Linked DNA regions of Homo sapiens: region 1 is linked to region 2. A link means that fine-mapping ties the variant in region 2 to the expression of a gene that starts in the linked region. Tissue or cell type: whole blood. Region 2 holds a variant in brackets; the other region holds the start of a gene. All regions are shown on one strand. Distances are between the middles of the regions.

Region 1 (2,759 bases), 28 kb before region 2:
TACAAACAAGAGACATCTAAAATTAATGGTCATCAGTTTCTGAGTTAAGAAACTAGAGAAACAAAACAAGAAATTTAAAAATTAAAAAATAGCAGAGTAAAGGAAACAATAAACATAAGAGCAGAAATCAATAAAATAGAAAACAGAAAACCAGTAGAGAAAATCCAAGAAAGCAAAAACGGGCTTTGAGATTTGAGATCCGTAAACCGAGAAGCCCCTCACCAGATCGATCAGAAAAAAAGATGACACACAAATTACCAATTTCAGAACCTGAGGGGTCAGATTTTATAGACATTAAGTGGACAATAAAGGAATACAGCTAACAGATTTGCATTATTAAACAATTTAGACATTTCTACAAATTATTAAAGCTCACTCAAGAGGCGATATCAATAAATATTTGTTGAATTAGTGAATACCAGCTATTACTATGGGCAAGGCGCTAAGTCCAGGCTTTAGAGAGAAAGAAAGCATTTTTTTTTTTTTTTTTTTTTGAGACAAAGTCTTGCTCTGTCGCCCAGGCTGGAGTGCTGTGGCACGATCTCGGCTCACTGCAACCTCCGCCTCCCGGGTTCAAGCGATTCGCCAGCCTCAGCCTCTTGAGTAGCGGGGTTACAGGCGCACGCCACCAAGCTCGGCTAATTTTTGTATTTTTAGTAAAGATGGGGTTTCACCATGTTGGCCAGGCTGGTCTCGAACTCCTGACCTCGTGATCCGCCCGCCTCAGCCTCCCAAAGTGCTAGGATTACAGGGGTGAGCCACCGCGTCCGGCCAAAGAAAGCATTTTCCTTCCAAAGAAGCTCTCAGGTTACTGGAGGGGCAAAAGAACAGATAAAGTTTAATGTTGCTCCGGGGGAGAAGATTAGGGGAACACTGGTTAAAGAAAGGCTTCTCTGGGGACAAGTCACTCGGCCAACACACGAAGGACCCACAGAAAACGTCTGTTACAGCTAGAACGGCTGCACGTGAGTTCAGGCAAGGGGCCCAGAAGTGGCCCTCCGGCGACTGCCTGCTCCACCCCTCTTAGTGCAGTCCTAACCCTTTCCCAACTTGTGCTGGCAGCAGTTAAGAAACTCCTTTCAAATCCGGCTGTCTTGCGCCTGCGCATTCAAGCAAAGCGCTCATAGGCGGGGTGGGGGGGGTGGGGGGGGTTGGGGGGTGGGGGGGGTTGGGGGGTGGGAGGGAGGCGGCCACCGGAAGTGTGACCTTTCGCTCCCCGCTGCCTATTCTCATCCGGGGTCACGTCGGTCTTCCGGGTGTCTTTGACAGGGTTTTCTACGCCGCTTTTTCGGCGACTTTTTGCTCTTCCGCTTTTTGCCACCGCCCCCAACCTTCTATATCCTTGCAGCCCCTACCTTTTCTTGTGTTGCTCCTCCCCTGGCAGCCGTGAGGGGGGTTAGATCTCAGCCGGAGCCGGAGCTGGGCCTAGCTGTCCCACGGGCCACCACTACCTCCTTTGGTTCGGGAGAAAGCTACGACCAAGTACGCCCAGCTCGGGCCTTAGAACTTCTGAACGGGCAGTGCGGGTAGGCCCTGCTTAGCCCTTCCCGGAGGACACCTGTGAGTTTAGGGGGTTTCGGAGAGGAACGCAGCAGTGTAGGCCCAGGTCGGCGGCGGGGCACGGGAAACTTTTCCGAAACGGTAGCGTTTTGTTTTGCGTGGGAGGTTCCAGCAGTATCTCTTGGTTATTCCAAATTTATGGGCGGCATCTGGGCTGCTGTACATTTTGAAGAATCTTAGGACCGCTTACTTTGCTTACTCGTTTTCTATTCCTCGCGTACTGCCTCGTCCACCACTCCAGGACCAAAAGAGGAAGATAGTCTTGGGACCCTTGCATGGTGTTTCAAAGGGTGGTGAAGAACTAAGGTACGTAGCTGGATTAATTAAAAAATTTAAAAGGCATTTATCTTTTAAGCCTTAATTAAATGGCATGAAATTGCTTCAGCTTTTCACTTTATAGGAAAATGCACAGGTTAAGACTGTTGTGTGCGTTTCTTTTCTTGTTCAGCCTTTGTAGAAAAGCTCTTCGTCTCTCAAGGTGAGAACACGAAAGGCTTATATGTCTCAAAACTTATGGATTCTCTAAATTACTTGTCTTATCTCTTTCAACTCTTTGTTTAAAGTAGCAGATATTTTTCATTAGGGTGAACAGAGAAGAAACAAAGGGAAACTGTAAAACACAAGCTAAATAACACATGTGCAGTGTATGATTTTGTGAAGAAAGAGATTGTAACTGATTACTAAATCTGTGTTTTTATATTACAGGTAACATAGTAACTTTTGTAAATATCTTCATATTGTATGGTTCAGTACCACCAGGCTTCTAACACGTACTGATTAACAGCCATAAGGCTATTAATTTATACTGATTAATAGCCAGTAATAGTGACGTTACTTTGTTGGTGTGAATAGCCCTAATTATGTCTGTTCTGGAAATGTCCTGTAACAGGTTCCATGTGAAATAGGCCGTTTATGAGTTGTTTAAGAAATGCCCATTTGGAGCCATGTGACTAGATTATTTTTTTGAACACTTGGGTGTAATTTAATTCTTAACCAAAAGGAATATCCTGTTCAAAACCTGGAAGTAGTTTTCACAGTGGGTTGGCAGGATTTAGGAACTGGATTTTTCGTATTGTGGAGAAAAGTGGGTTTGAGATATCAAAGGTATTTGGACAAAATGGACAGTATCTTGGTTTAGCCAGTAAATTTCTGGTTTTCATTCTAGGTATATTCTGCTTTCTAAAGAATCCTGATGAAGG
Region 2 (2,759 bases):
CTTAAGGTGACCAGAAGGCTTGAATACAAAATTATTGGTAGAGAGATTAGCTTTGAACAGGGGAAAAGGACGCCTTTTTTTTTTTCCCCAGATATGTTCATTTTTAGGTCTGTGGTTAAGAGGCTGAGGAATATCACATTTGGTATTCTCAATTTTCTTAGTAAACTTTAATTTAACTGTATTTGCTAGAGAAAGGGAGATAAGTTTAGAGGGCTTGAAAAAGGTAGTAAACATTTTGGAATGGTATGAAAAACAGAAGTGATATCTAACCAAAGACTTGGAAGTAATTGCTAAGTGATGCTAAGGGCCAACCTAAGACTATAAACTTGAAATACTCCAATTTTATGATTTTTAATTTTTTTTTCAGTTTTGTTTCTTAGCAACTTAGATGTAAGAGCAGTGAAGGTGGTTTTTTTTTTTTATATTGACCTAAGATTAGGGTTTTGTAGGACAAGTATTAGAACATGACAAGGAGATAATGTTGTTGAGGCACGATAAGAGAGTGGTTCAAGGGATGCACTGTGTAGTATAGACTGCATAGGGAAAGAAATAACACCATTTTTATGCTGATGGCTTGGGAGAAAATGGAGGATTCAAGGGAATCTAGATCTCTTGTGGTTCTAGAGCAGGTATGAGGAGAGTGAGAAAGTGTGAACTGGATAGAAGATTGAAGCCAAGATATTATATTGGAATTTAAAATTTCAGAGCTAGAGCAGTTCCAGTTTATTGTAAAGACCACATTATAGGAGTGTATACTGATGAAGAATACTGGAGGAAATAAAAGTCCGGAAAGGGAGTATGTTGTGATATGTAGCCCATTTCAGATAGGGAAATCACCTATGTTGATGGCAAGAGTTGGGCTGGAGGGAAAAGTGTGAACCAGATCAGTAGATAAAAGGGTGGTAGGGCCGGGTGTGATGGCTCACACCTGTAATCCCAGCACTTTGGGAGGCTGAGGCAGGCAGATCACTTGAGGTCAGGGGTTCGAGAGCAGCCTGGGCAGCATGGCAAAACCCTGTCTCTACAAAGATTGAAAAATTAGCTGGGTGTGGTGGCACATGCCTGTATTCTCAGCTACTTGGGACGCTGAGGCAGGAGAACCGCTTGAACCCAGGAGGCTGAGGTTGCAGTGAGCCGAGATCGCACCACTGCATTCCAGCCTAGGTGACAGAGTAAGACTCCGTCTCAAAAAAAAAAAAAAAAGGTGGTAAGTCGATGGCAACATGAAGTTAGGGTTTAGGGCATTGTTAGAAGAATGGGATGGAGGGTGGTTTGCATGAGCCTGGAAGACCGGGGACTGGTGACATCTCTTATATTTGGTATTTGTGGGTGTGAATACTAGGGATTGGGCAAACTTCTTTAAAAAGCCAGATAGTAAATACTTCAGG[C/T]TTTGCCACTCACATATTGTTTGTTGCATATTTTTATTTGTTTGTTTTCATAATCCTTTAAAAATATAAAAAAATTCTTTTCTCAGGGGCCATACTAATAAAGTGAGCAAGTGTTAAACAGTTTGCTGACCCATGGATTATTTTTATTACGAAGTATCTGTGACTGTACTTTTCTGTGACTTGTATATTTTACTTTGTAAAATTTATGTGTGGTTTTTCAGACCATTCTCTTCCTGTACTTGAGTAATAGTAGCTTTGTTTTGGGAAATATTAAGAAGATAATACATACTCCCTTTTAAAATAGTGTCAGTATAATTGATTTATGCTTCTCCATATAGCAATTACTTTTACATTGCTGAACAAAACTTTTACTTTTTTTTGCGGTGGATTCAAGTTGAGTCAGCAGATACTGGAGTTATTTGAAACATGTCAGCAGCAAATAAGTGATTTAAAGAAGAAAGAACTCTGTCGAACACAGCTGCAGAGAGAAATTCAGCTGTTATTTCCACGTATGTTTCCCTATTTTGCATGTCCTTTAGGTATATGCATTCCTATTTTAAATTTTATCTTTTTTTTTTTTAATAGGCACAGAACCATGCACCTACTTTAGATTTTAAATACTCTTATTACTTTCTTCTGTTTCTTTAGAAAGCAGACTTTTTTTGGTTGGGTCCTCTTTAAATGGATTTGGTACCCGGAGCAGTGATGGTGATTTATGCCTAGTTGTTAAGGAAGAACCAGTAAGTAAGGAAACATTTATTCCAAGTGTGTTTCTCATGTTAATGAGTTAAGAAATTTTACATAAAAGTCATTGAGGGAAAAAACTTGCTTTGTTGTGATTACTTCTTTGAATTTTGTTTACCATAATTGCAGGAAACCTAGGTAATTTTTTATTTTTAAGGCATGTGCACAATAAGCATAATAGGAAGTATAGCATTAATTTAATTCTAAGTTTTTAAAGTGAGATGGCTTCACTATGTGTTTTTTTTTTTTTCAAGAGCTCTACCTCTGTTTTGAAATGTCATTAGTTTGGATATGTTACCAGGATGCAGCAAAGAAGAGTATGTGGCAATATTATCTTCTTGATGTATTTCCTTTCCATTTGAATTCTCACTGATTCTATTTTTAATCTTTACTTTTTTTCTCTTTGAAAATGCTTATTAAGGGAAAATAGATTTCACTAAAATTTAAAATAAGACTCGTGTTTATTAAATTTAAAATATTTTTCTCTATGAATGACATTTTGCCTTTGTTTTTTTTTCTTTTTCTTTAGCAACAATATTGTGTTAATTTAGTACAGGTTGAGTATTCATTATCTAAAATGCTTGGGACTAGAGTTTTTTGGATTGTAGATTTTTTTTTTTGAATACT

Evidence for each region. PIP is the estimated chance that this variant, and not a neighbour inherited with it, causes the effect.
Region 1: TENT2 starts here. The variant in region 2 is fine-mapped to the expression of TENT2 in whole blood (TOPMed, PIP 0.97).

Annotation. Positions count from the first base shown.
Region 1 is chr5:79,611,210-79,613,968 of GRCh38, forward strand. TENT2 (terminal nucleotidyltransferase 2) reads left to right here and starts at 1,232. Exons shown (of 15, transcript NM_001114394.3): 1 at 1,232-1,866. It overlaps LOC124901014 (a long non-coding RNA gene), which reads right to left and starts at 1,128. Exons shown (of 2, transcript XR_007058840.1): 1 at 933-1,128; 2 at 262-811. RefSeq lists an enhancer at 837-2,036.
Region 2 is chr5:79,639,069-79,641,827 of GRCh38, forward strand. It overlaps TENT2 (terminal nucleotidyltransferase 2), which reads left to right. Exons shown (of 15, transcript NM_001114394.3): 5 at 1,783-1,897; 6 at 2,037-2,128. Among named protein-coding and RNA genes, the nearest start is that of TENT2, 28 kb to the left of the region's middle. The variant C/T (reference allele first, on the strand shown) is at 1,389.